Regions from separate parts of the Homo sapiens genome. Here region 1 is linked to region 2. Evidence: fine-mapped expression QTL. A gene starts in region 2. The other region holds a variant in brackets. All regions are shown on one strand. Distances are between the middles of the regions.

Region 1 (5,382 bases), 200 kb before region 2:
ATAGGATTGTGCCATCCTCCCCTCCCCCAACTTAAAATGGTCCCTTAGCGTCCCATTATAATTCCTAAGAGGGACCCTTCACTTCTCCCAGTAGAAAACAAGCCACCTCTACACTGCTCGCACATATATTTTTATTCACAATTTGTAACAATTGGTGAGTATGTTTACTTGCTTGGTGTCTGTTTCCCCTTCTAGGCTATACGCCCCATGGGGGCAGTAACATTGTCTGTTTTGTCTATCACTGTATCCCCAGTGCCTAAGTGTCTGGACTTTGTAGTTGCTTATTACATCTTGGTTGCATCAGTGAATGAATAGAAATAGGTCTCATATGTTTATTTTTGGGATACGTCAGTGAAGATGGCTGTTGTGAGAAAGCTAAAAATACTTGTCCACCCTATTTAAAGGTTTTTCTGTGCCTTTAATCATACAACTGGGTATTGCTTTACTATATATCTATATACCACTATATATAGATCTGTATATTATTACTATATTACTTATAATATATATTACTATATACCTATACATTTATATAAATTCTTCTTACAGAATCCATGAGGCCAAAACAGAAAAGCAGAAGATGTAGAGAATATTTTCAAAGATATATACTCATTAGAGTTAAAAAAAAAAAAAAGTCTACAGACAGCACAATAGGGCACCAGTAACTTTTCCTTTTCTTTGCTTTTCTGCAATGGAAATAGCAGTGTATTCCAGAAAGTTGTGCATTTTTCTGTGTTTCTAGTTAATGTAATAAAGGCAATCACACCTTCCTGTCTGGTTCCCACATTCTGTCCTTTGTCTACTGTAGAACCATGATTACTACTTTCAAGTTCTGTTTCAAAGTTAAATAACCACGAAGAGAAAAATATTACTTGTGGAAAATTTACTCCTTTCTCCTGTGCCTCTTATTATCCTAATTCATCTCTTATTTTATTTCATGATTACCCACCCACTAATGACAGGGTGGAAGCAGTAGTGTCTTTCAACACTTCTCTGCCAAAAAACAAAACAAAAGAAAACAAAAAGCCCAACTGTAACTCCTTCTGGGTGAGCTGTCTGGGCTGCTGCCTGGCACTCCTTTCTTCTTTCCCTGGTGTGAACCACTCTGGAGGGATGGGTTGGAATGCCAACTCACTTCTGAATGACAACTGGACTATGGGTATGACGAGTCAGGAACAAAAATGTTAGGTGTCTGGTGAGACTATCAGCAAGCCTTGGCCCAGATCTAGAGAGGTTTATCCACTGACATTTGAGGTTGTAAGATGTTGACTCCACATAATCTCGTAGAGCAAGAGAGAAGATAATAAATTTGGTGGTGCTGGTACATAGTGGGTCTTCTCTAAAACGAGGTGCTTTTATCTAGAGGGTTTATGAAAACTAGGTCCTAGACTGAAATTTAACCTTTTTTTTGTTTTTTTTAAAGAAGTTACTTGGCTCAGCAAGTGATCCCAACTGGCCGTTTTTCTCTATTAGCATAATTTCTTTCAGAGACAGTAAATGATCAGGTTGGACTCATTCTAGAAGTTCAGTGCAGGCCACCTAAACAGGCAGGTGTGAATAAAAGCAGGTAAGCAGCCAGACCCTGATGCCTGCCTAAGCTCAACATGTGCTGAATGACCAAGTGTCCCCATCTGTGGATAAGGTGCTTCTAACACATTTTCCTTCATCTAGACTCCAGCCTGTCAAAGAAAAAAAAAATCTCAGGTGACAATAAAGCCTGCTAAAAATGCATAACAAGGAGGTAAACATCAAGGGAGTGATGACATGTTTGCAATTAGATCATTTAAAATAAACAAATGGAAGAGGATATAGCTGAACCTTTCAAAAAATGAATTATATTTACTACATGATTCTATGCTGTCATTAAGCTATTTTTTCCCCGCTAAAAGCAAAAAGGGAAGTAGTTACAACAGTTTGTATACTGGCAGGCATTTCATATCTTAGGAAAACAAGCTTTTTAAGAATTATAACCAGTAAAAATGACACATTTCTGAGATAGTTGCTGGCTGCTTGTTTCAGGGAAATGGGAGTACCCCAATATTCCATGTGAAGCAATATAAAATTCTAACAGCTTTCCTCTTTAAAATTCTCTTTGGTCTATTTAACCATCAAAATTTTAACTTAATGTCCACTATGTGCCAAGTACACAAGAGCTGGGGATACAGTGGTAGATAAAACAGGGTCCTTGCCTCCCTGGGGCTTGCAGTTTAATGGAGAAAAGAGTGTACCTAATCTCATGAAAACCCATTTAGTCATTTATGGAACAGAGCATTGTTTTTAGAGGTATTTGTTTTCAATAAAAATGCTAACCAGAAGCAAAATACTTTTGATGCAGAAACAGCTGTATTTCTTTGACAA[T/C]TGCTGTTCCATTTATTTGAAGGACATTATTAGAAACAGCTTCTCCCTATAAGTTCTTAATGTTTTATTCATTACAAAGATTGTCCATGTGCCCTAGGAAAGCAAATTACATCAAGATTTAAGAAATTTTTAGGTATTTTAGGGTGGCAAAAGGGCCTGACTTATTGTAATTGATATGTGGTCTTACCATGATGTTGAGCAAGGGTTAGATGATCTGTTAGATTTTTGGGTAGGAAAAACAAACAAAACACACTGATGTCATGACCCACTTATTTTTAAGTGTGTGTGAGCGTGTTACAAAATGAGAGATCCTCATTTGGCCAGCATCTCCTGTGGCTTCTACCAAACCAGCGGTAGTCCCTAGTTTGCCTTTTGGAGCTGAATATACAGGTTACAGGTTGAAGAATCAGGAGATCCTATGTGACAGTAGCTTGTTCTATAGAGCGTACCTTTCAGCTGAACTCCAATTGTTTTTTACAAGGGAGAGATACCGGAAGACTGACATGCAGAAAAGGAAGTGCCATAAATACTAGTCATATGACTTTGAGTGATATGTAAGTTTGGCCAAATTAATATAAAAATTAATATGTAACTGTCAATCTTCTATATGCATGGTTACTTTTCCAGATTAGCAACTTTTTACCTTATTCTGCAAAGCAGTGATTACAAATAATTCTGACAAATGATTTGTGATTTAAGATGTATTCCTGTGTTAAAGTACTATAAAAATGATATAACCTACCCTTAAATCAACTGATTTTGCCAAATATGCAGAGCATTCTAGGTTAAATTTCCCCTTAATTAGTTGTGATCTTTTGGGTTTGTAAAGGGATTCTCATTCTCATCACCCAAAACTAAAGAGTTATTTTCCTGTTCATCAGAACCAACAGGAACATGCATCTCCAACAGCTTGACAACTGCAGTGTTACCTTGAGCATTTGTTAAAGGCCCCAGGCAACACTGCAATGCAAACACTGATCTAATATTTTCCGGCATCTCTTAAGAGCCATCTAAGGTAATCATGTCACTGGATTCTCCAGTGTGCTCTCAACAGAGCTTTGAGAGTGGGATGGTCTCTTACACAAGCTTGATTTTGTGGTACTGACAATCCTTCCTGAGACTGTGAGCTCCATGGATAAGGCTCAGGCTGACTTGCTGCCCATCTCCACCGAGTATTTTCCTTACCGATCTTCTGAAACTTAACTCTACAGTGATTTGTGCTCCAATGTCTTTCTTTGATATTTGTACTAAAAAATCACTTCTAGAATGCCTGCTCTGAGTAAGCACTGTAGCTCATGATGAGATCTGCAAGTCCTCCTCACTTATCAAACAGCTTGGAAGGACTTGGAGCTCTCTAGAGTTTGTAACAGAACTGATCTTTTCCTCAGCAGGTTCTAACGAAGGTCTTCTCCGTGCTTTTCCCTGTCAGATGCTGACAGCAGTTAACAGGTGGAGAAACTGTCACTTCCAAACTTCCATCTTTCTAGTTATGCTGTATTTTATCCTAATCAAAACACTGTAAAATGTAAACTGCCCTTGATAGAAGCTTCCCTATCCACTGTGGAAAACTAGTCCACTCAGCAACTGTAATTAGCTTTCTTTCTGATAATGTTGGCTACTTTCAACACTCCTCAACTCACAAAATGCAAGGAACTAGCTGCTGCTTTTAAAACATTTCAATAAGGATCCAATAAATATTATCTATTTTTTATGGGCACAACATCGTTTCCTGTTTTAGCCCTCTCCTTTTCTAACTGAATTCTGTTGACCTATTCAACCACTAGGAAGAGCTACAGCTTTTCTCTGTGGACGTTCTTCCTCCCGAGGCTGTTTAGGTTTCTCCTCCTCCCCTGTGCCTTAGGTAGTGTTTCTATCTCCAACCCAGTTTGAGAAGAGAGTAACATTTGTAATATCGTCATGTTACAATCATGTTACCTGATTATATATAGTCATGCTTTGCTCCTGCTGGGTTTGAGTTTTCTTCTTATTGAAATTCTCCTTCACCTCACTTCCCAACCCATCAACTAAGAGTTGTTTATCAGTAAAACAATGATTTGACAATATTAAAGTCATGTTAAATACAAAACAAAAACTCCATACCTCCCATGACTCCAACAAACATCTTTTAATTTTCTATATTTACTACTTTTCTAAGTCTATGTAGAGCCATTTATTTTTCACATTTGCAATGATAGGTCCTTTTCTTCTACCATTTATGTTGTGGGTCCTTCTCTACCTTGTTTAATGGTGACATAGTATTTTATTTGCATAGTTTATTATTGTAACTAACACCGCAGGAACATCTGTGTGTGGATCTTAATCTTTTTTAATTCCAGTGCCAACTGCTATAGTGGTGGGTGTACTGTATGGTGGTATTCTAACCAGTATTCTAACTGGCTCATAATTAGTCTCCAAGGGTTTAAAATTCTGCTTTTGTATTTACTAGCTAGTGACTCCGGGAAAGTTATTCAATGTCTCTGGTCTCATAATCTCTGAAATGGGGATGATAATAGTGCCTACTTCAAAAGATTGTTATAGTTAACATAATAAGTGCTTAGAAGAGCTAGTGTTCTTAACTACTGTGGCAACAGGGGGAGCTCAAACTTTTGAATTATGGCTCCTCCTCTTGTTTTCAAATGAAGAAAAATTCTCAGGAGAGGGACACTTCTGGTTCAGAAGGTCTAAACACTTGGGGACTGGCCTGTTATCCATGGGATTTGAATCTGAGAGATTTAAGGAGCTGGCTAGAGTTGCTGCCTTGGCTTCTTACAGAATGAAGAAATGTTGAAGTTATAGTTAAGGATAAAGTTACTGGTCAATGTCTTTTAGAAAACTGTTACACAATAACACCTACAACTTCTACCCAAGAGCCTTGTGCTTTAATAAAATCTTACTCCACTATTTACTCCTCACTGGCAGAACCTGATCGTGAAAGGGTGTAAAATGTTGATTTGTGAGGCTGGCTGTAGGCTGGGTGTGATCGATGGTGATAATTGTTGTAAGGCAGCCTCACCATAAGCCTGG
Region 2 (5,382 bases):
GGTCAAGTGAGTATGTATACCTTTCTCCAGAAACAAAGGAATTCCGAATAATAGGATTTCAGATTTAATTGTAGAATTAGCAAAATGTTTTGAGAATGTCATTTACCGCAACACAAATCAATATTAAATGCTTTATGCAGGAAGCACACTTTCAGAAAATGGGCCGTAAAGCTTTCTGGGATCCGACCCTAATTACTAGAGCAGGCTCTTGCCGTTTGTCTCTCTCTTCAATTATTTACAGGGCAAAAAAGCCAAATGGCATTGCATTAGCTACATTAAATGGTATGGACTTGGTTTCTAACTTACTAATGGTATATAAAAATTACTAAGGTAAATGTGCCTGTAGAAACATGGCTTTTTTTCTTCCTCACCTGAGTGGGTGTATTTATTATTCATATTGTTAAGTGTTGAATAAGCTGTCCTTTAGGCACCCAATGCTGCATAATTTAAACAAGTGCATTAAATATATAAGATATCTAAAAGGTAGTGCATTGATTATGCCACAAAATTTCTTTGAACAGCTACCATGTAGCTCACAGAAAACTAGCATCTCCTGCAAGTTCCTAAAACAAATACTGTGAGAACTACACAGAGATGAATAAGGGGTATCCTTGCTGCTACCATCTTGCTGCTTTCTGGTGACCCAAAGTAAAGTGGGAATTGGGGGAAGTGAAAATGAGGCCCGGGATTGCTAGGACATTTCTGGTCTCGAAACTGACAAGTGTCCTTTTTACGTAGACAAATACAGGGCTATGTCGTAAGTACATGAAAACGTGGACCACACACATTCTAAGAAAGAAAAGGCTGAATCAGAGATTCTTTGTACCAGGCCGGAAATGCCCAACTACCAGCAAGCAGAGCATGATTACAACCTCCCAAAGAAAGTTCGGACACTGCATCCATACCTGATTCTTTTGTGATCTAGAAGGGCACCCAGAGTTGTGATAGATGTTAATGGCTGAAGAAGGCTGCTGCGTCCAACTTCCACCCTCCCAAATTCTGGCGGCTGCTTCCAAAGCAGTGAAATTTCCAGTCTTCATGGCCCAAATAATTTTTTTAAATGAGTTCGGGAGGCATCAAATTCTTATTGTAAAAATAAGATAGGCCCACTAACAAAGTACCCAGGGTCCCTAGAAAGCCAGGCGCAATTTGTATGGCTACATGTCATCAACTGTTGTTACCCAAGAGTGTGCCGAGGTCACTTTTTAAAAAGCAACATTGGAAATCGATCTGTGGCAAACATATAAGCTAGTTTTGTTTTTGTTTCTTTTTTAACCAAATACGAAGTCACTTCTTTCTCTGCACTGAAATCTGCCCATTGTCCCTCCTTTGCAAAACCTCTAGAGATTAGAAGGGACATCAATGAACGCGAGTGAACTTTGGCCACTTTTCTACCCAAAACACCAGCGTAAAAGTAGAAATCAGTAACCAGGTGAAGTGCCACACCGCACAAAGATCAGAGGCGAGGGGCGGGCGCTCAGGGCCGGAGGCGGGGAGGAAAATATCCCGGCCCCGCCGCCCCTCCAGCCCCAGTCATCGCGTGCGCGGGAGGTGGAGGGGCGTCCCTGGGGGGCGGGAGGCTCCGCGCCACGGCGAGGGGAGCGAAGAGTTACAGCTTACAGGGCGAGGCCCTTGGAGAAGGGGTCGAAAAGCCGGGCCACCAGCGGATCCAGACGCGCACACCAGGCGACGGCCGCCGGCCAGCCAGGGCTCGGCGAGGGGCGCCGCTCGACCCCACGACCCTCCCCGCTGGCCGGGCCAGGAAGGGGCTGGTGGCTCTTTCCTGTCTAGTCTCTCCCCCCGCGGCTTTCTGTAACCCGATCCCCGCACTCCGCTCCCAGGGAAGCCGCCGCCCCGCGCGCCGCCCGGCTCTGCCCAGGCCAGCGCTATAGTTAGCAACCTTCCAGCAACTCCGCCCGGCGGTGGCGGGGGTTCGCCGCGCGCCCCCCTCCCCAGGCCTGACCCTGCGCGCGTCCCCGGGCCCCCTCCTCCGGCCGTCACCTCTCCCCGGCGCCCCTTTACCTTGGCTTGCAGATACTGGGGGTAATAGTAGGTGGCGTACTGAGGGTACATCTGCTGTTTCCACACTTTGCCCATGAAGCTGGAAGGGAGCCTGCCGTGCAGGGTCGCGGACACTTTGGGGTTTCCAAGTCTCGGGCTCTCCTGCCTCTCCCTTTCCGGCGGCGGCGGCAGCGGCGGCGGCGGCGGCGGCTGCTGCTGCTGCCGCTGCTCCACCTCCCAGCCGGGACCAGACGTCCTCCTCCTCCTCCTCCTCTTCCTCCTCCTCCTCCTCCTCCTCCTCCTCTTCCTCCTCCTCCTCCTCCTCCCAGGCAGAAAGAAAGACACTGCAGAGCGCAGAGGGCACCCCGGACAGGGCGCTCCCAAGGAGTTTCCTCCCGGAGCCCGACTGCTCCGGGGCTGCCAAGGGCTGGCGCGCTGGCCGCGGTCCGCTCGGGCGAGCCGGCTGCGCGGGGCTGAGAGGTGATCAATACAAGTGGAAAGTGCGGCAGCGGCGGCTGCGCTTGGTGCCAGGCGGCATCTGGGGTGGGTGCGCCCGATGTGGAGAGAGGAGAGGGGCTGGCGTTCCGAGGCCGTGGGGGAAGGGCGGGCGGGGGCGGGGCCTGGGCGCCGCCGAGCCCGGGACCCGCTGGAGGTGAGGGCTGAGTTTTAACCACTCCTCACCTCCCAGGCTCGCGGTTGGACGGGCGGAAGCCCTGTGAGTCCAGATCGCTTTGTGTCGGGGGTGGGGAAATGGGAGTGGGAGTGGGGGTGGAGGGGGAATGCGGGGGGACCCAGCTTAAGAACTGCAGGGCGGGCACCTCTTTTGCTTTCCCGAGTTTTTATCTTCGTAAGGGGGAGGGGAAATAAGGGAAAAGAGGAAATCTGATTAATCGTTCACTTCCCACCGCCCAGTAATTTTTTTTCACAAGGGAAGGAAAATGATTTAATGCCCAACAAAGCTGGAGTCTGGACACCTGGGTTCTGTTCCTCCCACCCACCCCCGACCCGGGGCCACAAGACTAATCTAGGTGACCTTGGGAGGGTTAGCGTCCTTCGGTTTGGTTTTCCCAGATGTGAGACGTGAAATCATGCCCCTTGCACAAGGGGAGGCAAAGCACATACATACATACACACACACACACACACACACACACACCCCTCACAACATATAGACGGATCCTTCTAAGAGGGGGATGCCGCAAAGAGGCAGAATGTTATTAGAGGACACAATATAGACATCAGCTTTTCTCTGCCTCTTTCTAATGCTGCCAGACAGTCTGTCAACTCCCACTCAGGAGCAAGGAAACTCCCTGAGTTTGGAATATTTTAAGGCCATTTTGAAAGTCACGCTGGCATATTGTTGCAGTGTGCTTCAGTGACATATAAAATCAATCTCTCTTTCTGCCTCTCTCCATCTCCTAATTGTCACAGCTCTAGACAGCCTCAGACCAGCAGTGGTTCAGTTCACTACATAACTAGATATAATTTAATGGAATTAATTGGTCCCCGAAGCTGCCTGCAGAAGACTTTTATATTCCAGCTCAAAAAGAGAGCTAATACCAAAATGTACATACGGATAGCATAGGTAAGCAAGCATCCTCAAATTAGGGTTCCGGCACATCTAATAAAATGTAATAAAAAACTGTGTTTGTTATTAAATAGACCTTGTTTACTTTGTCATTTTGGTTTTTGAAGAGTCTTTTGTTAATAGCACAAGGTAAATTAAACTCAACTGGAATGCATTATTTTGTTAAACAGTTATTATTTTTATATGATAACATTTTAAAATAGGTTTAGTAAGATACTTTAAAACAATGACAAAATAAGGACCTGAAACCCTTATAATCGTTCTATGGTTTAGACAAATTTCTAGATCTTACATGTTTGACAAAAACAAAATAAATATAAGTATAGGTGAGAACATTTTGGCTCTGCCAGGAGGCAAATCATGTCCCTCTCATTTACCTATGTAAAAGCCTATAAGGAAGCTAATATTTACTATGTCTGCTATATTGTAGGCACTGTTGAGGTGCATGCAGACCTGAAAAGTGGAATGGGTCACTGTCAGACTAGGGGAGCCTAAAATATTTCCCATATTGTTTCAATGTGGGGCCTTTTAATGTTTTTAAACAGGGAACTGACATGAACTAAATTGTGCTTTAGGAAGACTAGGAATGATGGTTTGGAAGAGTGACAGAAGGAAGAGAAGTAAATCGAGAACAATCGCAGAAGTTCTAGGTTTGAGGTAATAAGGGAAACTACCAAACTTAGACTGTTCTACTTACTGTTTTTTCTGGATGATGGAAATTCAGCCTGTTTTAGAGAGCCCAAAAGCAGACCTACACTTGTATAGACACTTGATTTATGACTGAGTTGGTATTATAGCGCAGTGGAGAAAGAATGAACTTTTCAATAAATGATTCTGGGTCAACTGGCAATCATATGGAAAAAATGAAATGGGAGCCCTGCCTCACACATACCAAGGGAGGAGGGTGGAAAATTGAGGTGAATCATGACCTGGATGTGAAAAACAAAAGTATAAAGCTGTTAGAAGACAATATAGAAGAATACCTTTTTGACCCTGAAATAGGAAAGATTGGTTAAATAAGGGGAACAACAGTGTAAGATTGACAGATTTGACTGTTAACATTAAGAACACTGGTTCATTGAAGGATTTTATAAAAAGCGATAAAAGCCACTAAATACCTGTAATACATATAACACAAAAGGTTAGTATACAGAATGTATAAATAATCAATAAAAAAAGAGAACTTGTTAGAATATGAACAAAAGAATGAATGTGTATTTCACAGAAGCACAAATATTCAGAAAACATATAAAAAGATGCTCAAGTTCATTAGTAATAAGAGAAATGCAAATTAAAATAATACTACTATACCATTTCATATTCACCGGATTTGCAAAAATTAAGAACTCTAAAAATATTAAGAGTAGGTAAAAATGTGGAAGGGGGGAAATCTGAAAACACTGCTTCCTGGAGGAAGTATAAATTGGTCTAACCACCACTTTAGAAAACAATTTGGCATTCCTGAATTTCATTTGCATGTTTCCTACAACACAGTAACAGGTACGTACCTTAAATAAATTATTTTATATGTGCACCAGGAGAAATATACAGGAATGTTCATAATATGCAGAAAATAACTCAAATGTCTACCAACTGTAGAGTGGATTAAAAAGGTTTTAGTATATGCACACATTGGAGTCGTTGCAGAAACAGAAATGAATAAGCTGCAGTTAAAAGCATCAACATGGATCATTTCAAAACTGATGTTGAATGAAAAAGGCAAGTCAACAGAATGCATAAAGCATGATTCCATTTGTATGAAGTTCAAAAACAGAAAAAATAACTAAACAGTA

Alleles and levels. Alleles are on the strand shown, and positions count from the first base shown. SD is a standard deviation of normalised expression in the study named.
For the expression in NK cells of the gene that starts at base 2,541 in region 2, C is the high allele of the variant in region 1 and T is the other (small effect, 0.32 SD a copy in Gilchrist 2021).

The links. PIP is the estimated chance that this variant, and not a neighbour inherited with it, causes the effect.
Region 1: its variant is the best candidate, but not a certain one, in a credible set for the expression of RBMS1 in NK cells (Gilchrist 2021, PIP 0.81).

The regions. Positions count from the first base shown.
Region 1 is chr2:160,287,425-160,292,806 of GRCh38, forward strand. The region is part of intron 6 of RBMS1 (RNA binding motif single stranded interacting protein 1); the gene reads right to left. Among named protein-coding and RNA genes, the nearest start is that of LINC02478, 18 kb to the left of the region's middle. The variant T/C (reference allele first, on the strand shown) is at 2,359.
Region 2 is chr2:160,491,267-160,496,648 of GRCh38, forward strand. RBMS1 (RNA binding motif single stranded interacting protein 1) reads right to left here and starts at 2,541. Exons shown (of 14, transcript NM_016836.4): 1 at 2,023-2,541. The coding sequence starts at 2,097. RefSeq lists an enhancer at 2,082-2,602 and a silencer at 2,789-2,968.